7 linked regions of the Homo sapiens genome follow. The protein of the gene in region 6 purifies or fractionates together with the protein of the main gene of each other region. This does not show direct contact. Each region holds a gene or a part of one and is shown on either strand. Other genes may lie near its edges. The genes, in order: NRP1, GOLGA5, CLCC1, TMEM63A, ABCC1, HTR1E and ITGA2.

Region 1 (3,500 bases), on a different chromosome or scaffold from region 6:
AGACTCCTTCTCAAAAAAAAAAAAAAAGAAAGAAAGAAAGAAGGGAAATGCAGATAAAATGGTGTGAAGAGGCCCAGAAATGGAAAACTGTGTCCAGTTGCAGAGAACAGAAAAACTGAGTAAACGATGTGGCATTTGAAAACAGGTCAGGATTTTAAGCAGTTCAGATAATGGAAAAGGGTAACATGACAGGGAATTCCTTGTGGAGGGAACAGAAAGAAAGCTCCCAAACTCCCAGAAGTAAGGAAGTTCTTCATGCCAATTGGCACTGGTTAAAGGAGTGAATGGGGAGAGGCCTTGCAAGGACATGACATGGAAGGCCTGCATGCCTGACTGAAAATGACGTGCGTAATTTCTAGACAAGAAGGCACTGAATGTCTGAGTAAAGAAACGACATGATCTGGACCATAGAACTCATGTGGAAAGTATCTGAGTAATGAATTCTTAAGGTTCAGCTGATAATGTGGACTTAGTTTAATTGCATTAGATGTTTGCCTCTCACTTAGGGGTAGTTATATTTTTAGGCTAAATTTTTATTATATAACGCAGAATTGAGTTGCTTCAAAGAAAAATAGGTTATCATTCTTGCACATGTTCTTGATTAGGATGTACAGTTTCTAAAGGAAAATACTTGAAGTGTTGGACATTTTGTCATTAAGCCAGCGTTGAATTCATCAACAACTGATACTCTCCTTGTGCTCAGAAGCTCCTTGGGCTGCTTTAGAAGACATAAAAAGGTCTATGATGCTGTTCATTGCCTTTGAAGATCTTATAATCTAGCTGTGGGTACATGACTAACAATCTTAAAGCCTTAGAGAGCAGTGGAATGCTGAGCTCTGTGCTACTTACATCATATTTCTGAGAAGGGAGAGCTCAGAATAAAAGCTAGAGTAGCTTGAAAAGTTCTCTTCATGAGTCTTAAGCTGGGTTTTGAGCAAAGGCAATGATGAGGATGACGTCTAGACTGTATGAGAAGAGAATTGCTTAACTGAGATGTATTGTCAGTAATAGAAAATCAAATTAGGCAAATGGGATGAAGTCAAAATGAGGGTCTTGAATGCCAGATCGAGTTTTGATATCTTCCTATCAATAATGGAAAACCATGGTACATTTTCAAAAGATATCTCTTTTCTATTGTCGGGGTAAAATATACATAACATAAAATTTACCGCTTTAACAATTTTCAACCACTTTTAACCATTTTAATTTTATCATTGTACATTTTTAAGTGTACAATTCTGTCGCATTAAGTACAGTCACATTGCTGTGCAAGCATCACCACTATTTCCAGAATTTTATAATTGTCTCAGACTGAAACTCTGCACCCATGAAACACTAACTCTCCCAATCTCCATTTCCCCCAAGCCCTGGCAACCACCATTTTGCTTTCTGTCTCTACGAATCTGACTGATCTAGTGATAGGCTACTCCTATCCATGGAATCAGACCATATTTGTCCTTTTTTTGTTGGGCTTCTTTCACTTAGCAGTGGAGATTTTTGAGGATGAGAATGACATGCTTAAAACAACATTTTCTGAAAATTTAAGTAGCAGTTGGTGTAGTGGAGATTCAAAGTGGGGTCTGGGAGGCCAACCAAGAGCTGATGTAGCACCCTGGCCAGAGCGCTCGGATCAGGATAAATCCAGAAGAAAGGAAGGTAGCAACAAGAGTTCTGTTGCTTTCTTGTACTTAATAAAAACAACAGGATTTGGCAGCAAAACGGAAATGACGAGATGACTAGGCAGGAAGTGGATGATTGGTGATGCCACCAATTAAAAGACAGGGTTCAGTGAAAAGATGCAGTATCCAGGGGAAAGGACTGTCTTAGTCTGCTTGTGGTACATTTGAGATGACAGTGAGACATTCATGTGGAAAGTCCCCAATGCAATTAGAAATAGGGGTGGGGAGAACAGTTGTGGGGGATCATGGTCACTATTCTCCCACACTCAATTCAAATGCCACCTCCCCTGGGAGGTCCTCTATTACCTCTGCAGGCTGAGTATGCATTCGTTCTCTTTACCTCTGCATCACTGTCTCTTTACCTTTGTTTTAGCAACCTTCCTGCTATCGGATTGACTTCTATGCATATCTCCAATCCATCATAAACTATGAACTTCTCTTAAGCAGGGCCAGTACTTGATCCAGGGATGAATTCTGGATACCAAAGAGACTGAAATATGAATGTTAAACTTAGAAGATGTCAAAGCGGGGGAAATGTATGTTCTTATTGAAGATTTGCCTTACTGGGATGTGAGTTTAGAGACGGGAATTCTGACAGAGCAGGAGGAAGGTTTGAGGGAGGAAAGATTTACTGTAAAATAATCCAGAGACTGAAAATTGTATATGATTGGGTACAAAATCATGTCTTTATTCCATATGTTGTATTTTATTTCTTAGCATGGAGTCGCCCAGGAAATCATTTTACATTATCTGTTTCATTTCACTTCCCAGATTATCCTTGCTCTGGAATGTTGGGTATGGTGTCTGGACTTATTTCTGACTCCCAGATCACATCATCCAACCAAGGGGACAGAAACTGGATGCCTGAAAACATCCGCCTGGTAACCAGTCGCTCTGGCTGGGCACTTCCACCCGCACCTCATTCCTACATCAATGAGTGGCTCCAAATAGACCTGGGGGAGGAGAAGATCGTGAGGGGCATCATCATTCAGGGTGGGAAGCACCGAGAGAACAAGGTGTTCATGAGGAAGTTCAAGATCGGGTACAGCAACAACGGCTCGGACTGGAAGATGATCATGGATGACAGCAAACGCAAGGCGAAGGTGAGGGCTGGGGACTGGGAGGAGGTCATCCCTTATGTCCTTGACTTCAATCAAGGGCCTCTGGCATTCTCCCGAGGAAGGGCTTCTTATTTCCTTCCAGCCATGACATTAGAGGAGGTGTGTGATGGGGTCAGTAAGACCCTTGATTCTAGGAAGACAGGAATATGGCATGAAAAGTGATGTCTGAGATAACATGCAAAAGAATTGCATTGCTGGTCCCATTCCCTGGCTGTAGGGATGGACAGACAGCTCAACATGCAGACAGGAGACGGGGAAGCCCAAGGCTGACAGCAGCCATCCAGCCAGCGCTCAGAACCCCTTGCAGATACCACTCAGTCGTTTGGGTCTGCCCTCCCCCCATCTCAAACCTACCCCTAGTTTAAGTGCTTTGTTTCTTTTATAAATTTTTATTGTGGGCCAGGCTCAGTGGCTCATGCCTGTAATCCCAGCACTTTGGGATGCCGAGTCGGGCGGATTGTCTGAGCTCAGGAGTTCGAGACCAGACTGGACAGCACGGTGAAACCCCATCTCTACTAAAATACAAAAAATTAACAGGGTGTGGCAGCGTGTGCCTGTAGTCCTAGCTATTCTGGAGGCTGAAGCAGGAGAATTGCTTAAACCCGGGAGGCAGAGGTTGCAGTGAGCTGAGATTGCACCACTGCTCTCTAGCCTGGGTGACAGAGTGAGATTCCGTCTCAAAAAAAAAAAATTAATTGTG
Region 2 (3,500 bases), on a different chromosome or scaffold from region 6:
GGGAAAGGCCTTGGATGGCTATATTTTTAACAAACTTCCTGGTTGATTTTAATGCATTGCCATGTTTGGGAGTTACAACTTTACATTTCCTATACTTTAGCTCCTAACAAATTAAGAATTTTTTCCCATCCCTACTATGTTGTTTGGCTGAGCTAATAAATCCCATAAGATATCCGAATGGATGGTTGTAAAATATGTTTCAAAGCTAAATGATATCATTAATTATGATATAAAAATTTGTCACAGAGCGAGTTTGCTGCACGCCTTAATAAAGTGGAAATGGAACGTCAGAATTTAGCAGAAGCAATTACACTGGCCGAAAGAAAATACTCAGATGAGAAGAAGAGGGTTGATGAACTGCAGCAGCAAGTCAAGCTGTATAAGTTGAACTTGGAGTCCTCTAAGCAGGAATTAATTGACTACAAGCAAAAAGCTACTAGAATACTGCAAGTAAGCATGAAATGTACACTTTTGGATGTTAAGATGTGCAAGTTAACTGAAAGGCAATTTGAGACTGTGTAGATACTGTGTGAGGTGCTTTGTTCATGTTCGTCTGATTGGCTAGCTTTAGGTGCCTTACTCTACTTTAGAAATTTTATTAAAGGATGCAGTGTTTCTTGTTCCTACCACTTCTTTTAAAAAAAAAATTCATTCTGCCACTGCCTAGTTCAGGTCTTCAACCTGTCACCTTACTCACTGTGATGATATTAATGCTTGTTGTTGAGCAGCTGTTTATTCTTCCTTGTTGATCTCCTATTGAATTTTTGCAGCAACTGCTTTAGGACTCATCCAGTTCTCAGAATTGTCTCACCCAGCTTTTTTTCCCCTCCTTCAGATCTAAGGTGATCTTACCCTCTACTTTACTAAGAAAGACTACAGTCATCTAATGTCGTTTTTGAATTCTCTTTCCTTTGTCCCTCAGAGGGAAAACATGTCCTTTCATTTTTTTCTAGGATCATTTTCCTGCCTGTGCATTGATTCCATCTCCCATCTCATGTGTAAGCCCTTTCTCCATAGATCTATGCCCTTCCTTCCTGTGTGTGCCTCTCTGCTGCTGCTGCCTTCTGGCTCAGCTTACTCAAGAGCACATGGTTATTTAGTGGAAAAATGAAGACTAGATCTCGGACTCCTGCCTAAGAGAAAAACAGTCTCTTTTAGCTTTGTGACCACTTTGCACTATTTCCCTATCTTCCTTTCTTTCAGTGTCATGCTTACCAGAATTGTGTACGTGCTGTCTTCATTTCTGTAGAACTTGTTAACTCTTATCTCCTTCTTTTCCTACTACATGTCTGAAATTTCTTCTCAAAAATATTTGATGACCTAAATAAATATTCTCTGTCCTTTTCTTAGTCTCCATACCTTGTATTTTGGTAGAACATTTGGCTCTGTTAACCCTCCCACTTCCTTGGAACTCCTGCCTTCTATGCTATTCACATCTCCTTGGCTCTCTTTTTGTCCTCTTCTACTGCTGTTTCTGTCTCTCTTGGGCGCTCTTCCCAATCTCCAAAGAGTCAGAGTCCTCCTAAGCTCTGTCCTGAACCCTCTTTCATTGTCCTTTCTTACCTTGCACTGCTGTATGCTGCCTCTGCTTCTAATAGCCGCCTGCATATGACTTCAAGCATGTTTCCAAGCCTGACCTCCTGACCTCAGTGCCCAGCTGCCTACTGTGCAGGCATGGAGTGTTCAGCTCCCAGACCAACTTCTCCCTCATTCTTCTGTTCTGGTCAACGTTACTGCCATGTGGCAGTAAAGCTTGAAACCTCAGGGTCATTTTTGACTTTACCTTTTTTCTTTAGTCTCAAACTTCTAATGGCTATGAATACCTTTTTTTAATGCTACTTCCATGAAGTATCATATTGATCTCCTCCTCAAACTCTTCTTTCTAAGTACTTTTTTGTATCACCCTAATTTGTTAATTCATTGAAAAGTTACTTATTGAGCACCTAACTACTCACTAGGCACAGAGGATACAAAGCTCAAAAGATGTGTCCTCTTCCTTTAAGAAAACATTCATCTTAGTGGAAAGAAACAGATAATTGACGTAATAAGGTTATTAATGCAGTACAATGGGAGCTTGAGAGAAGAATCCCTTAAAACTTGCCTGAGGCTGTCAAAGATCACTGGACTGAGGAGATGTGGTATAAAGAGAAACTTGAAAGATGAATAGGAAGACTCATGATAGGGAAGAGATTTCCGAGAGAACAACCTGTGCCAGAGCAAGGGGGCCAGAGAGAACATGGCATATTTAAGGGACTGCAGCTAGTTCCATACTGCTGGAACATAACGTCTTCAGAGATGGGAGGCAAAAGACTCATAAAGTTCAACGGCAGGCAGAAGCCATGGTCAGGTTTGAGTGTGAGAACTGTGGCAGCCTGATGAAAAGGTTAGGGGAGATTTGGGCCTCTGTCTTGTTCATCGTTGTATCCCCAGCACAGTGCCTGGTATTCGGTACATTGTTGAAAACATGGAAGTGATAAGGGGTGGCATCAATGGCATGTAGATGGTGAAGAGGTGATCATAAGAAATAATGAGGACCTGATCAAAGTTTTTGGCAGTGAGGATGGCAGGCAGGGGACAGCTAAGAGATATGTGGGAGATAGAATATATGACATGTGGAGATTTAACTGGAAGGATGGGGGAAAAAGGCAAATGGAATCCAGGATGACTCCAGGTTTTTGGTTTAAGTGTATGAATGATGTTTCCTTGTGTTAATAAAAGGGGAAACAGGAAAGAGAACAGGTTAGGGTTAAAGGAGAGTATGACGAATTATGGTAAGTATGCAAAATTGATGCAACATTGAGGTGACAATGTTAGAAAGGTAATTAGAAGTAAGTTGGGAGAGTAGGTAAGTTTAGGCAAGAGCGATGTGTAACCTAACGGGGAGAAAGGCTGAGGTCTAAAAACACAGTCTTAAACATCAGCATTTACAAATTGGGCAAAAGGATAGCCTGCAAAAGAAAAATACTGAGAAGGTGAGTGGTCAGAGATTGGAGAGAACCAGGAGGAGACTGATGCCATCCAATGAAGCCAAGCAGAGGGAGAGTTTCAAGTGGTGCATGATCACCAACCACAGCACGCGGCTCTGATGTGACAAGTCCCGAGCTAAATTCCTGGACTTGGCAACTAGGAGGTCCCTGGGGACCTCTCAACAGAGAGTTCCGGGGTGCGCTGGGAGCTGAAGACATGGAGGCAGGGTACTTGACCATGGACATGAGGACAGTAGCTAGATGGGGGAATGAGGTTGGGAGGTTTCTGGTTTTTTATTAAAAAAAATCTTAAAATGTTATAAATGATCATGTTTATTATAGAAAATTTGAAGAATACAAAAGAAGTTTGAAGAAGGAAATGGAAATAACCCATAATCCTACCACCCAGAAAAGGAAAAATTATTTTTGATGGAGGAGAATGACTTTAAAATATTTTAATTTAACGTGAAAGCTGCTGGTCCTTGTTGTTCCTAGTCTAGAATTAGGACTTTATAAACTGGTCTTTGCATGTCA
Region 3 (3,480 bases), on a different chromosome or scaffold from region 6:
AAATTCATTCTGGGCTATTTCTTAACAGATTTAACAGCCTAAGACAGAGGCAGGCAAACTTTTTCTGTAAAAGGCCAGATAGAAAATATTTTAGGCTTTGCCGCCCATATGGTATCTATTGCAACTGCCCAACTCTGCCATTTAGTAGGGAAGCAGCCATATAGATAGTATATAAACATATGTATTGATGGGAAAATGAAAATGACTTCATTTACAGAAGCCGGCACTGGGTTACAGTTTGCTGTCCCCTAGCCTAAGACGTGATTTTTTTAAGGTAGTTCCTCATGGGGTTTGTACATATTTCTAAAGATTTGTTAAGTTACACAGTTGATGCCTGTTAGATTATAACCTTGAACTGTCATACTTAGATACAGTTGACCTTGTCTTTTATCCTTGTGACCAATTATAATTAAAACAGTATGACTTAACATAATGCACGTACTAAACCAATGAAGCAGCTATACCTATATAAGCCATTTTAAAGGAAAAATTTTATGCAGTTTCAGGTTTAAAGATTATTTCTTTCAGAAATCAGGCTGGGAACTAAAGAGAACAATATAAAAACAAAGATTAATTTCTGAGAAGCCCCAAATAAAAGTTTACAACTGCGTTTTCTTGTTGTGACTGAGAGATTTAACATAGCTTGGTGCTTTCTTTCCCACAGTATGTCTTTTAATCTCTCTCATAAACTTCTAGGGATCCAGATTAGATGATCAAAGATGTGCTCCACCACCTGCTACCACAAAGGGTCCGACAGTACCAGATGAAGACTTTTTCAGCCTTATTTTACGGTCCCAGGGAAAGAGAATGGATGAACAGAGAGTTCTTTTACAAAGAGATCAAAACAGAGACACTGACTTTGGGCTAAAGGACTTTTTGCAAAATAATGCTTTGTTGGAGTTTAAAAATTCAGGGAAAAAATCGGCAGACCATTAGTTACTATGGATTTATTTTTTTTCCTTTCAAACACGGTAAGGAAACAATCTATTACTTTTTTCCTTAAAAGGAGAATTTATAGCACTGTAATACAGCTTAAAATATTTTTAGAATGATGTAAATAGTTAACCTTCAGTAGTCTATTAAGGCATTAATACTTCTCTGGACATGCGCGTTTGAGGGTGGAGGGGTCCTGTAAGGTGCTTCATCGTCTGTGATTACTGCTTGGGATGTGTTCTTTGGCAGCTTGTGAGATTACTTTACCTAGTGTTTATAAAGTAGGAAGTTAAGTGAATCATAGATTAGAATTTAATACTCTTATGGAAATAATTTTTTAACATCTTAATTGACAATGGCGTTTTTTTATACATAACCATGGATGTAGTGGGAAACAATGTTGTTTGGTAAAAATAATGTACTTGATCAATGTAAAAAAGTATATAAAATAGTCTTACTAAAAATCTAGGTTTTTTTTTCCTCCATGAAAATCTGTTTTTTTAGGCCAAAGTCAGTATAAAAGAAACTCTACTTCTTGGGCTGGGCATGGTGGCTCATTCCTGTAATCCCAGCACATTGGGAGGCTGAGGCAGGAGGATCGCTTGAGGCTAGGAGTTCAAGACCAACCTGGGCAACATAGACCCCCGTGTCTATGAAAAATAAATCAGCAGCCAGGCGCAGTGGCTCACACCTGTAATCCCAGCACTTTGGGAGGCCGAAGCGGGCGGATCACTTGAGGTCGGGAGTTTGAGACCAGCCTGGCCAACATAGTGAAACCCTGTCTCTACTAAAAATACAAAAATTAGCTGGGCATGGTGGCATGCGCCTGTAGTTTCAGCTACTTGGGAGGCTGAGGCAGGAGAATCACTTGAACCCCTGGGAGGCAGAGATTGCAGTGAGCTGAGACCAAGCCACTGGACTCCAGCCTGAGTGACAGAGCAAGACTCTGTCTCAAAAAAAAAAAAAACAGCAAGCATGCTGGCACACACCTGTAGTCCCAACTGCTTAAGAGGCTGAGGCAGGAGGACCACTTGAGCCCAGGAGGTGGAGGCTGCACTGAGCTATGATCGTGCCACTGCACTCCAGCCTGGGTGACAGAGCAAGACCCTGTCTCTAGAAAACAAGTATCTTTTGTGTGTTTTGGGCTGTTTAAAAAAATTATTTAAAATGGTCTCTTCTGTTCCATAATACTGCTGTAAAACAAACTTTTCTAAGTTCTAATATAAAAACAAAAAACAAAACCCATGTGGTTAGGTCAAGAACCTAGGACACATAAACAAACAGAAAACAGATGAAAACTCACAAAAATTAAATATGAAAGAAAGATGTCAGCTAGAACCTTAGTTGTCATTAAGCTTTGTCTTCCTTATCCCAGATATTGAAGGCAGTTTACAAGGGGATGATAACAAAGTAACTAACTAACTGTAGCAAAAGACAAGTATGGGACAGACTGGGACCTGGAGTAACACTGGATCACAGACTGCAAAGGCCCACGCTTGGAACAAGTTGCCAACTTGTTTCACTCTGCTTGCTTCAGACTGTGCACAGCTGGGATGGGATCTGGGGATGTGGACCCCTATTCTTTCAAAAAGTCATTCAGGTGATTTGGATGGGCAAATAGAACTATTTCTCTAATGGCCAATGTTTTTTAAGAGTCATAACCTGGAATTAATTACATTAAGTGCTCAGCTAAAAAAAAAAAAAAAGTTCTAAATTACAACCTGGATTACATTATGTTTCATGTATACTATAAGGTATGATGTCCTGGATAGCATTTTAAAAACTCAGGTAAGTTTCATGGGGTTCTTATAAGAAAATTCAGTTAAGACAATATACCAAACCACAACGTAAAAAGTTTGTGTATACAAACTTTTTGTATTATTTGTACACAAAGTACAAATTTGTATTTGTACACAAAGTACAAACTTTGTGTATTATTTTGTGTATACAATAGTTCTTACAGCCTGTAAACATTCAACATTATTCCATTTAAACATTGTTTTTAACAGCTGTCTACCCTGTTCTGATTTTCCTAAAAGCTTCACACTATATAGGCTGGGCACAATGGCTCATGCCTGTAATCCCAGCACTTTGGGAGGCCGACAAGGGCGGGTCACTTGAGGTCAGGAGTTCGAGACCAGCCTGACCAACATGGTGAAACCCCATCTCTACTAAAAAATACAAAAATTAGCCAGGCATGGTGATGCACATCTGTAATCCTAGCTACTCGGGAGACTGAGGCAGGAGAATCTCTTGAACCTGGGAGGTGGAGGTTGCAGTGAGCCGAGATTGTACCACCTCACTCCAGCCTGGGTGACAGAGCAAAACTCTCAAAAAAAAGTAAAATTTCAAAAAAGCTTCACAATATAAACCTTAATTTTAATGACATATTGGCTAGTCAATAAACAAGTCTTATCTCATCTCATCTCTTTTCTGATAACAAACACCCGATGTGTTCAATTTGCTTTCATATTTAAGTCTTTCCTGAATTGCTGTCATCATTCAACAACAGTTGCATGTCGCCTTGCTAGCTGTCAAAGTAGACTT
Region 4 (3,173 bases), on a different chromosome or scaffold from region 6:
TGAGTTTGGGGCTTTAGTGAAGGCACATGGTAAGGCGCTAGGGTTTGACAAAGGTTTGTCATCAGCGATGCACCTGCCTGTGCGAGGTCCTCCACTAGGCTCCAAGAGGGTGTCAGGCAGACTTCCCTTTGAATTCAAGAAATGAACATTGCACCTGCTTCAGAGGAAGACCCCATGGTAGAGAGACACAGGGCTCCTTGCCTTCCTAGTTCTCTCTGCACACAGCCTCCAGGGTCCTGCTCCTAGGGTGGGGCTGGGAAGGGAAAGCAGAGCCCCAGGGTTCCAGAGCTGTAGTCACCAGCCTTCCTGACAGCCGTGGCCAGGACAGAGCCGACCTCATCTGCAGGGTTCTTTCTGGTGGCTGCCTCCCAGGTGTCAGGCTCTCTTATCGGTGTCTGTCCTTGGACAAGTTCCAAACAAGGGAGGGCCTCAGAAGGACTCATTACCCAGCGACACACCTGTGGCTATGCTGGCCAAGCAGGGAACATGCAGGACAGGTGGATGATGTCAAGCCCTCACAGCCAGGGTCTCAGGAGGAGTATGGCAGGGCTCTGTGCCTGGGGTCAGTGGCTGGAGCCTGGGATTGGGAGGAAATGAGACTCAAAATGAGACTCACACAGATATGTTGAGCATCCCAGGGGTCCCAGGGCAGCGTTCTAAGCCCCCCTATATAGGTAGACTTGTTTCTTCTACAAAGTGAGAAATCCTCCTAGGATCCAGGGCTAGGAAGTTTAGTTTCCTCTGAGAACTGCTCTCTTGTGCTTCCTTCTGTGATCATGAGAACTGTATAACTGTGCTTTCTCTTTTGCCCTGGCTGCTAGGAAATTCTGCAGGTGTCATATTTTCGGTCTTAATGTCCTAAATGGATGTCGGTGTTTCTTCATATGTCCTTTATGGCCACTGTCTGTGTCCTGTTGGGAGAAGGGCAGGAGGGGAGGGATGCAGTGTGGAAGCTCATGCCTGTCCAGGCCAAGCACAAATCCATTTGCTGACAGCCCTACGTGCCTCGGATTCTGAACGGCTTGGCCTCGGAGAGGACAGCACTGTCTCCGCAGCAGCAGCAGCAGCAGACCTATGGTGCCATCCACAACATCAGCGGGACTATCCCTGGACAGTGCTTGGCGCAGAGCGCCACGGGCAGTGTGGCTGCTGCCCCCCAGGAGGCCTGAGGCTGGGTGAGCTGCTGGCTGGGCCAGGCTCAGGGGAGCCTGTGGGGTGAGAAGACAGGTGAAGCGGCCTGACTCCCAAGTTCATGACTTCTTCCCATCTGTTTTAGGTCTCACTGCTCTGAAAAGACACAACCAGAATGGCCTGGGGCTCAGGCCCTTGGCTGAGTGGGAATGCGTTGGGACTGCCCAGCTGAGCTATCAGGTGCCCATCTTTTCTGGTCCCAGCAGTGGTGAGGAGAGCACAGGCAGGCCTCGCCCCTCCCTTGCTCACCCAGTTTCCCCTCCGGCACAAGCTTCCAGCTCTGCAGCTGGGGTGACATCCCCAGTGGTTTGTCGCCAAGACCATGTGGTGGACTTTTCGCCCCCCAAACTGATGAGTCCGGGAGAATATATGGAGAGAGAGATGTAACAAGGGGAAGGCCTCCTCCCTTCTGAGCACACACACAACCGATAACCAAAGAGATGCTGCAGTCCAGGTCTGAGGTCCCGCTGGCATCCAGCTCCCTGCTCCATGGCCAGTCCCTCCCCAGCCCAGCAGTCCCTCCAGGCTACATCCAGGAGTAAGCTATGGGGAACAGGTTGGGAGGTGGCCAGTGCTCCTGCCAGCTGTGCACACATCTCTGTATCCCGCTAGAGTTCTGTGTTTTTGTATCATGTTGTCAGGGACGCTAGCTGGGTCAGGGTTACCCCATAGCAGGCAGGGACAAGGACCACTCATAATATGCCCATTGGACCACAGTTAAGATCCAGCCTCTCTCACCTCTTCAGGGCTGAGTGCATGAGTCTGCACCTCCAGGCAGGCTCTGTGCAGTACTCACCCCCTCCGTCTGCTCCCTCCAAGGTGTGGGGGTGGGCAGTGCTCAGGGCCTCCTCGGAGCCAAAGGACAGCATGGTCGGCACAGAGGAAGGGGTACCTGGGCTGGGTGCAGGGCCATCCCACTGCCCTTGAGCTGTGGCTCTGGCAGGAAGGAGGGGCAGCCCATCCCTCTTCTCCCTCCTGGGGATTCTGGGGAATGGGATGCAACTTAAGACTTCTGCCTGAGAAGCCTCCTCCCTGCTGCCTCCAGGGGGCACCAAGGCACAAGCCTGTGCAGTAGGGGCGGGATGGGGGTGTGGAAGAGCAGGTCCAGGCTCCTAGCACAACTGGCCTGGGGCCTTGGCACCTCTGTAGGCCCTGCCTGTGCCTGTCCGCTGGCCTGGGGGGCCTGGGCTTATCTGGGCCTTCTCACTCAGGGACTCTCTTGACGCTGACTTGCCCCCGCAGTGGTGGCCAGTGCTGCCTCTGCTCCAAGCTGCCCCTGCGCTGGGAGGGGTGGGGGCGGTGCCATTGGTCTGGTGCAGCATAGCCCTGGCCAGTGGCCTCATCCCCAGCAGGCCTCCCGTGCCTCTGCCAGCAAGGAGGGGCCGGCCAGCTCTGCTTGCACAGGGGGCCCCATGTGGGGTCAGCGCACGCTCATGTCACTGAGTTCCAGCCGCTTTTAGAGTAAAGTCGTTTATCATCAAAGCCATGTTGCTTACCACACGGAGTTGGGGGTTGGGGAGTGAGCTTGGAGGGGTGAGGGGGTGAGCGTGGGCTCCCAGCATGGGCAGGGGACGGAGGCAAACTCATTCCTCAGAAAAGGGGTATCTTCCCCAAGAAAAGCCTGGAGGGCACTTGTGGGGGGAGGTGGCAGGCGGGGGGAGAGGGGTGGGTCATTGCCGCTCCAGCACCGACAGGAACTTGCGGATGTCCTGGGCGAGCAGCTCCGGCTCCTCAAAGGCCGCAAAGTGGCCCCCACGAACCATGTAGGAATAGGAGATGAGCTTTGGGTACTTGAACCTCACCCACTTTTCAGGCGTGTGCAATAGCTCAAAAGGGAAGGCAGAGAAGCCAGTGGGCACATAGACCTTCATCCTGGAAGTGAAAGAGCCGACGGAGGGGTGAGGCTGTGGCCCTGCGCCCCTCCGTCCTGCACAGCAGGGGGTTAAAGCGCCTGGGGGTGAGATCAGCTGGCCCACCCACAA
Region 5 (3,500 bases), on a different chromosome or scaffold from region 6:
GTAATCTCAGCACTTTGGGAGGCCAAGGCAGGCAGATCACTTGAGGTCAGGAGTTTGAGACCAGCCTGGCCAACATGGTAAAACCCTGTCTCTACAAAAATTAGCTGGGTGTGGTGGCGGGTGCCTGTAATCCCAGCTACTTGAGAAGCTGAGGCATGAGCATTGCTTGAACCTGGTAGGCGGACACTGCAGTGAGCCGAGATCGCGCCATTGCACTCCAGCTTGGGTGACAGAGTAAGACTCTGTCTAAAAAAAAAAAAACACAATAAAGGAAAGAAAATTCAGGTCTAACTTTCAACTCCCTAAAAGTTTAACTACTAACAGCTTACTGTTGACTGGAAGCCTTACCGAGAACATAAGCAGTTGATAACACTAATTCTGTTGTTGTTGGTTGTTTTTTGATAGAGATGGGGAGCTTGCTGTGTTGCCGAGGCTGGTCTCAAACTCCTGGCCTCAAGCTATTCACCTGCCTCGGCCTCCTAAAGTGCTGGGATTATAGGCGTGAGCCACTGCACTTGGCCTAACTCATACCTTGTATATATATTATATACTGTATTTTTACAGTGAAGCAAGGTAGAGAAAAGAAAATGTTAAGATTAATTCATAAGAGAGATTTTTACTATTTATTAAGTGGAAGTGGATCATCATAAAGGTCTTCATCTTCATTGTCTTCACGTTGAGGAGGCTAAGGAGGAGGAGGAAGGGGAGGGGTTGGTCTTGCTATCTCAGGGATGGCAGAGGCAGAAGCATAATCTGAGTATAAGTGGACCCGTGCAGTTTAAATGTGTGTTGTTCAAGGGTCAGCTGTTTGTTGAATAAATGAATGACATGAAGTATTACAGTGGCTTTTGGGCGGTGTCGAAACTTCTTTGTAAGGATTTTAAGGATGAAATAATCACTTAACTGTCTGGAATGAACACTCAGATAAACTGAGTCCTCCAGCTTTCTCATCAGATGGCTTGTTTTTTTATTTTATTTTTTTGAGACAGGGTCTTGCTCTGTCACCCAGGCTGGAGTGCAGTGGCGCGACCTCAGCTCACTGCAGCCTCAACCTCCTGAGCTCAAGCAATTCTCCCACTTCAGCTCCCCAGGTAGCTGGGACTACAGGCACACACCACCATGCCCAGCTAATTTTTTTTTTTTTTTTTTTTGTAGAGATAGGGTTTTGCCATGTTGCTCAGGTTGGTGGTGAACTCCTGAACTCAGGCGATCTGCCTGCCTTGGCCTCCCAAAGTGCTGGGATTATAGGTGTGAGCCACCGTGCTTGGCAGAACAGCTTCTATTTCATCTTGGAAAGGTCAGAACAGGGTTTTGTCCACCCCTCTTTTCCCAGGACTCAGTGTCTCACACACAGTGGGGGCTCAATCAACATTAGAATTTGAGTGTTTGAGGTATGAGTTCCAAGCTAGGGGTTAGATATAGCTCACCACTGTGCTGGTTTGGCTTGATTTTAATTATAGGAATGACTGTGATTTCCAATTTTATTTATTTATTTATTTGAGACGGAGTCTTGCTCTGTTGCCAGGCTGGAGTGCAGTGGCACGATCTTGGCTCACTGCAACCTCTGCCTCCTGGGTTCAAGCAATTCTGCCTCAGCCTCCCCAGTAGCTGGGACTACAGGGGCACGCCACCACATCCAGCTAATTTTTGTGTTTTTGATAGAAACGGGGTTTCCAGTATGTTGGCCAGCATGGCCTCGATCTCTTGACCTCGTGATCCGCCCGCCTCGGCCTCCTAAAGTGCTGGGATTACAGGCATGAGCCACTGTGGCCCGCCCTACAATGTTTATTCATTGGCAGATTTCACAGAAACATCTGGATTTCTGGCTTCCCTTGAAAAATCAGAAGTTCTGCTAGCCCCAGGCCCACATTTATACATGGTAGCGGTCCGCTGAGGCTGTCCGTTTCTGAGTTGCTCCAGTTTGCCGCAGTCCCCACCCCTCCCTGTTGTTGCTTTAATTTTAAGGCCAAATGTTTGTTGCCTTTGTTTTATTTTATATTATTTTTTTGAGACGAAGTCTCGCTCTGTCACCCAGGCTGGAGTGCAGTAGTGGAATCTCGGCTCACTGCAACCTCTGCCTCCCGGGTTCCAGTGATTCTGCTGCCTCAGCTTCCCGAGTAGCTGGGATTACAGGCCCGCACCACCACACTCGGCTTATTTTTGTATTTTTAGTAGAGATGGGGTTTCTCCATATTGGCCAGGCTGGTCTTGAATTCCTGAACTCAAGTGGATCACTTGAGTTCCTCAGCCTCCCAAAGTGCTGGGATTACAGGCATGAGCCACCGTGCCTGGCCTGTTGCCTTTTTAAAATTGTGCTTCCTCACACCTGGTCTGCTTCTTGCATGGATGGAACCCACTTTGGCACCTGTTGGTATCTGAGTTGGCATCTCCTGCTTTGCAGGCCAACCTTGAAGTTAGCATCTGATTGGTATGTTGGCTTCAGATTTTCATGGCGAAGTAAGGCCTAGCTTTGATGATCAGCTCTTAGTGTGGTCAGTACAACTCTAGCTCGTGAAAACTTGCCCAAACATTTTGCCAAAATTAATTAATGGCCAGACATCCTGAGGCAAGCTTCCCCCCGCTTAGCAAGAAAACTGGGATAGGGCAGCATCCCTGTGGGTGGAGTGGTGCTGGGGACCTGCACTTACCTCTTAGAGGCTGAATGGTTGAACGGGGCCTTTGAGGAAGCTGTATTTTGCGGGTGGGGACATGGAGCACAGTTGCTCAGTGTCGGCCCCGTTGACATGTAGGCCACATCATTCTTTGTGGCCTGGTTGCTGTTCTGTGCAGCGTAGTCTTAGCCCCAAACCTGGCCTCTACCCCCTAGTAGATGCTGGTAGCACCTCCTCTTGTTGTGACAACCGAAAATGCCTCTAGATGTTTCCATATGTTCCCTGGGGTGTGAAATCACACAGCCACTGGTGTGGAGGAATATGGGGGAGAAACATGGAGCAAGACCTTCCTCCTCATCCTGCATTTCCCTAGGAGGTTGTGGGCTGTCGAAATTCTAGTGTAATTGGCTTACTGGGGTTGCCTTGGAGAAGCTTAATGAGACGTTAAGGAGGTTAAACTCCAATTAGCTAGAGAAGAAACTTGCGGCAGTTTCTTTTTTACTGAGGGCTGTGTCTTTTTACCTTTTTCCATTTTCCCAGTTGGAGTTGTGACAGTTCATTCTCCCCTGGGAAAACAAAAATGGCTTTCTTTTTCTTTTTCTTTCTTTTTTCTTTTGAGACAGGGTCTCCCTCTGTCACCCAGGCTGGAGTGCAGTGGCACAATCATAGCTCACTGCAGCCTCGACCTCCTGGGCTGAAGCTATCTTCCCACCTTAGCCTCCCAGGTAGCTGGGACCAGAGGTGCACACCACCATACCCGGCTAATTTTTGTATTTTTTGTAGAGTCAGGGTCTCACCATGTTGCCCAGGCTTGTCTCAAACTCCTGGGCTCAAGCGATCCTCCTGCCTCGGCCTCCCAAAGTGCTGGGATTACAGGCGTGAGCCACC
Region 6 (3,326 bases):
GCTCCCCACATCTCAGACGATGGGCGGCCGGGCAGAGACGCTCCTCACTTCCTAGATGTGATGGCGGCTGGGAAGAGGCGCTCCTCACTTCCTAGATGGGATGGCGGCCGGGCGGAGACGCTCCTCACTTTCCAGACTGGGCAGCCAGGCAGAGGGGCTCCTCACATCCCAGACGATGGGCGGCCAGGCAGAGACACTCCTCACTTCCCAGACGGGGTGGCGGCCGGGCAGAGGCTGCAATCTCGGCACTTTGGGAGGCCAAGGCAGGCGGCTGCTCCTTGCCCTCGGGCCCCGCGGGGCCCGTCCGCTCCTCCAGCCGCTGCCTCCCGGGCGGCGCTCGCCGGCCTATACGCCACACTTCTTATCGCCCTCCTTGTCTGCAATTTATTTAAGAAACTGGGTGATTTAACCCGTGAATTTTTTTACAGTTTGGATTCCAATGATTGCATAATCAAAAGGTAGTTTAACATGTTTCTTGATTCTCTGTGGTTTCTTTAAAGTAGTTATTGGTCTAAGATGCTTAAACTTTTAATACATTGACTTTAGACAGCTTCAACTCCATTTGCAATAGCTACTATGTGACCTCTGAATTTTTGGTAGGCAAGAGGTAAAGCAATTGCAGCCCAGAACATCATGTGGAGCCAGGAAATGCTGCTAGGAGAGAGGGTGGCTAAGCTGACAGAGTTGAGGGCAGTTTTCCTGGATCAGTTTAGAGGCCATGTGCAAAACAGAAACCTTGCAGCAGGAGGGAATGACTTATCAAAGGGAAGTGGTATCTGGAAGTGTCTAGGAATGGACAGAAGTCAGTACTTAACACAGGTTGACTGGGAAAATGCTGGGAAGTAAATAGAGAAAGGCAAGTATACCCTGGGTTCCTTCAAAGCAGTTCAGGAAAATATTCTCTAAATGATGGTGGTTACATGCAACGTAAATGAGTTGATCAGGAATGCTCCAGGTCCACCAGCATGTTAAACTTTTAATGGTTGAGACGTTATATAATATTTTCTGGTAATTCAAAGTCTTAGCAAAACTTTGTGGTAAGGATATTTGTCCCATATTTCAGATAACTCTAAGAATGCTAGGAAAGGGGAATATGTCAACAAGAAATGTTACATGTATGGCTGGATGCTATTTTCTATTTTTTCCCTTTCCTTCAGTCAAGCATGTGGCCTGGTTTATGCTTCCTTACCTCACAGATATTTCAGAAAGCGGAAGTATCAGACAGTAATCCCTATTTATGTTCTCAAAAGCCAAGCCCATAGGAGATTTATTAATAAAAGATTTGTAAATAAGTAAAAAAGGAAAAGAGAGCTTTTAATAGGTGGCTGAAAGGGTTAGAAAAAAAAATGAAGGAAGAAAGGAATTTCTCCAATGGTCTACATACCTTTCCCGCGCAAAATGGAGGAACAGAAAAGATCCTGGGGGTCTAAGACTTGGGCCAGAAGTTCTGGAAGTGCCTTGAAGAGTCTATAATATTTTAAAAAGGGATACATGCATGGTGTGGCTAGGGACTTAGGGGCTAGGCATGGGGTTCCCAACCTTAGGACATTTCCTAAGCGTGTTACGGAAGCAGTCTGGGGATCTGAAAGAACTGTAGGAGTGGGGGACAGTAAATATCTTACCAGGGACTTTCTCTGTGCATGCAACATCTGAAACCCCTCTCCCCAACCAAACCTCAATGCCTTGGCCCTAAATAATCCTCCAGAGACTTGGGGGTGTGGTTGGGGTTAGAGAAAGTCTCAAGCATGAGAAGTGAGAAGCTTAGAAGCAGCAATTAGGTTGACACATGTTCTCACTTATAACCGGGAGCTAAATATTGAATAACACATGAACACAAAGAAGGGAGCAATAGATACCAGAGCCTACATGAGGGTAGAGGGTGAGTGGAGGGTGAGATTTGAAAAACTACCTTTTGGGTACTATGCTTATTACCTAGGTGGTGAAATAAGCTGTACACCAAACCCTGCAACACACAGTTTACCCATGAAACAAATCTGCACTTGTACCCTCAAAACCTAAAATAAAAGTTGGAAAGAAAAAAAAGAAAGAACAAAATTAAGTTGACTTATTTTTAATAGGCTTTTATTACACATCAGAGTTTGTGGGATGAAATCTGTCTCCATTACCCAATGCAAAAATCACTGGGAAAATTAGTATAACAAATGACCGCAAACACTTACATAGTACTTACTATGTATTAGGCGTTGTTCTCAGCTTCTACGTGTATTAACACATTTGATCTTCACACTACTTACTTTAGAGAAAGATGTCATTATTCCTGATTTAAAGAGGAGGAAATTGAAGCAGGCTAACGTTAAAGAACATGCTTAGGATTACACTGCAGCTGACAAGTGGCAGGGTCAGCATTCAGAGTCCATGTGGGTAGTCACCACTCCAAGCTTTCTCTCCAAAACCGCTGACTCAGGCACACTTTTTAGGTTAAAGTAAATCAGGACTTATGAAGTGAAATGTCAGTTTTCTAATGGAGGAACCAGATCCAAAATATAAAACCCTCTTTAAGATAATTTTTAAGATGAGCAGGTGCCAGCTGACTCCTCCTTCTTGATAATGCTTAGGTGCTTTGGAAACTCTTCCTGGATGAGAAAGAGATTCTTGTCCCTCTTCATCTGCTGCAAAGGACAAAGCCCCAGAAGAATAATATGCCAAAGTCGGCCTTAACATCTATCATCCCTATAACCTCATCTCCCTGGTGCTCTGACCTTCACTGGGATGGTATAAAGCAGAGGCTCTAGAGTATCCCTGGAAATGAGGAGCAGCGTACACTAACCAGTTTGGTTTAGAGTAATTCTCTCCTATTTGTAATTTTTATGAAAAACAATTTAAATATGGCCTTGGACTCATGATATTTTTTATGTCACAATAAAGTGGAAATTTAAAGTTACAAATCCCCAAAAAGGTCCTCCATCAACTCCTCATAGGATGTATCCATTTTTAGCTCTGATTATTGCAGTTAACTTTCCAAAGTGCTGGGATTACAGGTGTGAGCCACCACGCCAGCATATTTACTGTGAAAGTTTAAAATCTGATTTGAAAGCTGCTTATTATAAGCAATATAATTTTTTCTTTAACGGCCCCAGAATGTTTAATGTTACATAATATGAATATATATTTTCAAATGTAAAAAAAAGCCTTTTTATATATAAACATGTATAAAAGAATAAATATAAATAAGAAATTAATTGGGGTGGCAAAGTACATTTAAAATTTTGTGATGTTTTTGTCAAAAACGATTTGAACAAATTTATAGGAAAAAAACAAACAACCCCATCAAAAAGTGGGCGAAGGATATGAACAGCCACTTCTCA
Region 7 (3,500 bases), on a different chromosome or scaffold from region 6:
TCCCTCAGAAAAAATGTAAATGAATCTATGCACGGAGAATTTTGCACACAATCCCATGAGGTTTTTGTACATACGCTGAAGTCCTTTCATGCACCCCAAATCCAGAGTCCCTCAATTTACTACAGTCATTCACATAACTTCATGGTCTCTTATCCTCAAAGTAGAACACATCTTTTCCTTACTTGCTATTTTTCATGGCTTGTATTTTTTAGTCCAACATCTTATCTTTGGTACGCTCTAAGATAGAAGAACAAAAAATTAAAAATAGTGTATCTCATCCTCACCAAATCTGCCTCGTTTGATGATTTATAGCATTGAGTGTTTAGATTGGGTTTCAAGTCAATCCAGAGTAGGCATCTTCCTTTGCCCTCCCCACAGGGCTGACAAATGGTTATTTTCCTTCCAATAGATTGAATGTCACAGCTAAAGTTGCCTCTTGTAGCTGTGCTATTATCAAATAGATGGAATATAGGAATATACTGGAACATTTGAGAAGGGGTCAGGAAGAGAGAGGAAGAAAGCTGAAAGTAGAACAGGTCAGAAGAGGGCCTCCCGAGCCGTGTCTGGGATAGCAGAAGTATCTCCGTCTCTCCCGTGTCAGTACTTCTGTTTCTCAAGCATGTCTCATATCCGGCTGTGAGCTTTCCTTATAAATATGTGGAGTGAGAGACTCACTTCTGACTCCTTTGTAAAGTTCATAAGGGTTTACCATTGGCAAATATATGCCTTTGAAAGGGAAATTTGAAGATGGCTCTGTACCTGTCCTGTACTACAGGTTATTACAAAGGTTTGTCTGTATAACATATCATACTAAATAAAGTCCAAAATAACACAGCCAATGGGAAGGCTTGTTCTCTAGCACAAATATATTAAGACAATTCTACAATATGTCAATATATGTTCATATATATTTCATCATTTTTAATAAATCTAAACAACTTATTTCAATGTTTTGCCTACCCTGCATTCTTATGTTTTAAAGGTGATTTGTTTCAATGATCTTCATTTTTCAATTATTTTAGGATATTCTGATGCTGGGTGCAGTGGGAGCTTTTGGCTGGAGTGGGACCATTGTCCAGAAGACATCTCATGGCCATTTGATCTTTCCTAAACAAGCCTTTGACCAAATTCTGCAGGACAGAAATCACAGTTCATATTTAGGTAAGGCATGGTAATAATTGGCTCAGCAAACTTAAGTTCCCTTGCTTTAAACCAGCTCTTTGTTGAATCTCAGGGTGAGTTCAGCAAAATCCTTGAACTGTCATCTAATTATCATATTTATTACACATACATATGTTGTCTCTTTGCCAATCGGGCCTTAAGGCATAACTACTTATTGGAATACTATATTATACTCACTAGTTTCTTCTGGCTGGTCAAGTGGTTGTAATTCCTGGAACATGATTGTGTTCCTCCAAAATGGAAATAGTTCCCAAAAGTCAATACAGTAAGTGATAGTCTTATAGTATTTTAGAGCTCTTAGTCTTCTTGTTCTTATAATAAGCAGCCACTGATTTTGCAGACTTACTATGGGACAGTTCCTGAGCTGCTAGTCTATCTACATAAACATTTAAATCTTTCCAACAAGTCTTTCAGGGATGTTTTGCCTTTGAGAGATAGCAAGATTAACAACTTGTCTAACGTTCAACAACCTAGTAAGCGGCAAATCCAGAATCTGAACCTCAGCCTGTTTCCAAGACCTGTGTTCTTTCTACTGTGCAACACTACCTTTTAAATACATTTATTCATTCGTTCAAGAAATATTTTTTGAATGCCAGGTTCACAGGTGGCTGATGAGAACAGCGTGGAATCTAGAGGCAGTTTTATAGGTAGAAGTCCCACCTGCAAAGGGAAGTGCTGCAGGTCAAAGGACAGGAGCAATTCATCTTAGAAAAAGGAAGACATGTCCTCAGTGATGTATTCAGGAGCACTAGAAACTTTGCATCACATCTAACACAAAAGGATCTCTGGTCACCTTTACTCACTTCTTTTAACTTTATTTTGCTCAGATAGTCAATGTTAATCACTCTGTTGCTCCTTCCCTTTTAGGTTACTCTGTGGCTGCAATTTCTACTGGAGAAAGCACTCACTTTGTTGCTGGTGCTCCTCGGGCAAATTATACCGGCCAGATAGTGCTATATAGTGTGAATGAGAATGGCAATATCACGGTTATTCAGGCTCACCGAGGTGACCAGGTAAATCTCACTGTTTAGCAGGTGAAATTAATTTTAGGGGCAACTGGGCAGGTGGGGAGTCAGGTGAACAGAAATGGAAAACAACATGGCCTGAGTGCCTACTCTGTGATTGGCTCTGTAATCTGAGTTTACTTAGTGTATTCCTTAAATCATCACAACAATACCAAGAAGACAGCCCTCCCTTTTGACAACTTACTGGGAATTTAGCTAGCTTTCTAAGGTCACACAGCGTCCATGGATTGAGCTGTCATTAAAACTCAGTCCTTTCTGGACTCAGAGGCTGTCCTGAATGATTACATCCCCTTCATGTTTTTGACTCCCTGGATTAATAATGCATGGATATTATTTAGTTGTGATGGCAGGCATGTAACCACTGCTTTGTAGGTAAGCACACACTAGGAACAAGGATTTGGAGAGGAAATAATGAGAAGAAGGGAGCAGCACAACATTATAAGGACTGAACTTTTACATCTGAACCTGTCAGAATGTCCTGTTGGTTTTGAAGATTCTAAAAGTAAAACAATTATCTTCTCTGCCACTTTCAGCTGATGGGTGACAGTTTGGTAGTTAGACCCTATGATGAATCCCAGATATGGCCCACTACAGCAAAGATCTGTTGCTAGAGCAAAGGCCAGCTGATTGCTTCCTGTTTCCTTACTAAACAGTTTTGACCCAGGGGCTTGACACACATTTAAAATGAGCATCACTAATCCCTGACAACCAACAAAAAGTGGTTTCCTTCTTTAAGCTGGAGAAACTTACAAAGATTTCTCTTCTCTGAGATTAAGTGTGATCCTGCTGTTCCTATGGATTTTCTAGGAGTAAGAAGACCCGAGTTCTTGACTTCCGTGACCACAAATTAGCTATGGTCACATACTTTTCTCTCTTTTTTAATATTTTAAAGAAGTTCTTCTTTAATTTAGAAAATAACAGTGACAGTGTTATGGAAGGAATCATTTCTTAGTCATTTCTAAATCCTCAAAAAGTGTTCACATAGGCATGCATTGAACGTTGTTGAATGGGATGAAGGTTCAAAGTCTCAGCTTTTCTTATTTTAATTTATCTCCACCTTGTCCTCCTGTCCCAATCTATCCAGCAACTACTTACCTGTCTCATATCATGCCATGTACACTTACATCATCATATGTGCTTTCCCACTTCCCTCTGCCTAGAAAACTCCATGTCCTTCTTACTTTGCAATTTGAATGATATTTTAACTTTCTAAGCCTTCCTGACTCTCCTGCTCTCTGATCACTCAGCCTTTGGGACTTGCCTCTATTACAATTTATTTTACTATAGAAGCTT

Evidence for each region.
Region 1: the proteins of HTR1E (region 6) and NRP1 purify together in Homo sapiens (co-immunoprecipitation; one large-scale study listed by IntAct). This does not show direct contact.
Region 2: the proteins of HTR1E (region 6) and GOLGA5 purify together in Homo sapiens (co-immunoprecipitation; one large-scale study listed by IntAct). This does not show direct contact.
Region 3: the proteins of HTR1E (region 6) and CLCC1 purify together in Homo sapiens (co-immunoprecipitation; one large-scale study listed by IntAct). This does not show direct contact.
Region 4: the proteins of HTR1E (region 6) and TMEM63A purify together in Homo sapiens (co-immunoprecipitation; one large-scale study listed by IntAct). This does not show direct contact.
Region 5: the proteins of HTR1E (region 6) and ABCC1 purify together in Homo sapiens (co-immunoprecipitation; one large-scale study listed by IntAct). This does not show direct contact.
Region 7: the proteins of HTR1E (region 6) and ITGA2 purify together in Homo sapiens (co-immunoprecipitation; one large-scale study listed by IntAct). This does not show direct contact.

Annotation. Positions count from the first base shown.
Region 1 is NC_000010.11:33,212,668-33,216,167, reverse strand, and holds part of NRP1 (neuropilin-1 isoform a precursor), read left to right. Parts: intron 1-2,346; exon of another isoform or gene 2,347-2,450; coding exon 2,451-2,782; exon of another isoform or gene 2,783-2,930; intron 2,931-3,500. UniProt on the Homo sapiens protein: Cell-surface receptor involved in the development of the cardiovascular system, in angiogenesis, in the formation of certain neuronal circuits and in organogenesis outside the nervous system. Mediates the chemorepulsant activity of semaphorins.
Region 2 is NC_000014.9:92,811,305-92,814,804, forward strand, and holds part of GOLGA5 (golgin subfamily A member 5), read left to right. Parts: intron 1-246; coding exon 247-450; intron 451-3,500. UniProt on the Homo sapiens protein: Involved in maintaining Golgi structure. Stimulates the formation of Golgi stacks and ribbons. Involved in intra-Golgi retrograde transport.
Region 3 is NC_000001.11:108,929,005-108,932,484, forward strand, and holds the end of CLCC1 (chloride channel CLIC-like protein 1 isoform 1 precursor), read right to left. Parts: 3' UTR 937-3,480; coding exon of another isoform or gene 697-936; 3' UTR 501-696; downstream 1-500. Other genes in the region: GPSM2 (G-protein-signaling modulator 2), read left to right, coding at 697-936. UniProt on the Homo sapiens protein: Anion-selective channel with Ca(2+)-dependent and voltage-independent gating. Permeable to small monovalent anions with selectivity for bromide > chloride > nitrate > fluoride.
Region 4 is NC_000001.11:225,845,036-225,848,208, reverse strand, and holds the end of TMEM63A (mechanosensitive cation channel TMEM63A), read left to right. Parts: intron 1-995; coding exon 996-1,169; 3' UTR 1,170-1,175; intron 1,176-1,276; 3' UTR 1,277-2,673; downstream 2,674-3,173. Other genes in the region: EPHX1 (epoxide hydrolase 1), read right to left, coding at 2,862-3,063. UniProt on the Homo sapiens protein: Mechanosensitive cation channel with low conductance and high activation threshold. In contrast to TMEM63B, does not show phospholipid scramblase activity. Acts as a regulator of lysosomal morphology by mediating lysosomal mechanosensitivity.
Region 5 is NC_000016.10:15,956,116-15,959,615, forward strand, and holds part of ABCC1 (multidrug resistance-associated protein 1), read left to right. Parts: intron 1-3,500.
Region 6 is NC_000006.12:87,010,528-87,013,853, forward strand, and holds part of HTR1E (5-hydroxytryptamine receptor 1E), read left to right. Parts: intron 1-3,326. UniProt on the Homo sapiens protein: G-protein coupled receptor for 5-hydroxytryptamine (serotonin). Also functions as a receptor for various alkaloids and psychoactive substances.
Region 7 is NC_000005.10:53,058,852-53,062,351, forward strand, and holds part of ITGA2 (integrin alpha-2 precursor), read left to right. Parts: intron 1-1,022; coding exon 1,023-1,161; intron 1,162-2,049; coding exon 2,050-2,195; intron 2,196-3,500. UniProt on the Homo sapiens protein: Integrin alpha-2/beta-1 is a receptor for laminin, collagen, collagen C-propeptides, fibronectin and E-cadherin. It recognizes the proline-hydroxylated sequence G-F-P-G-E-R in collagen.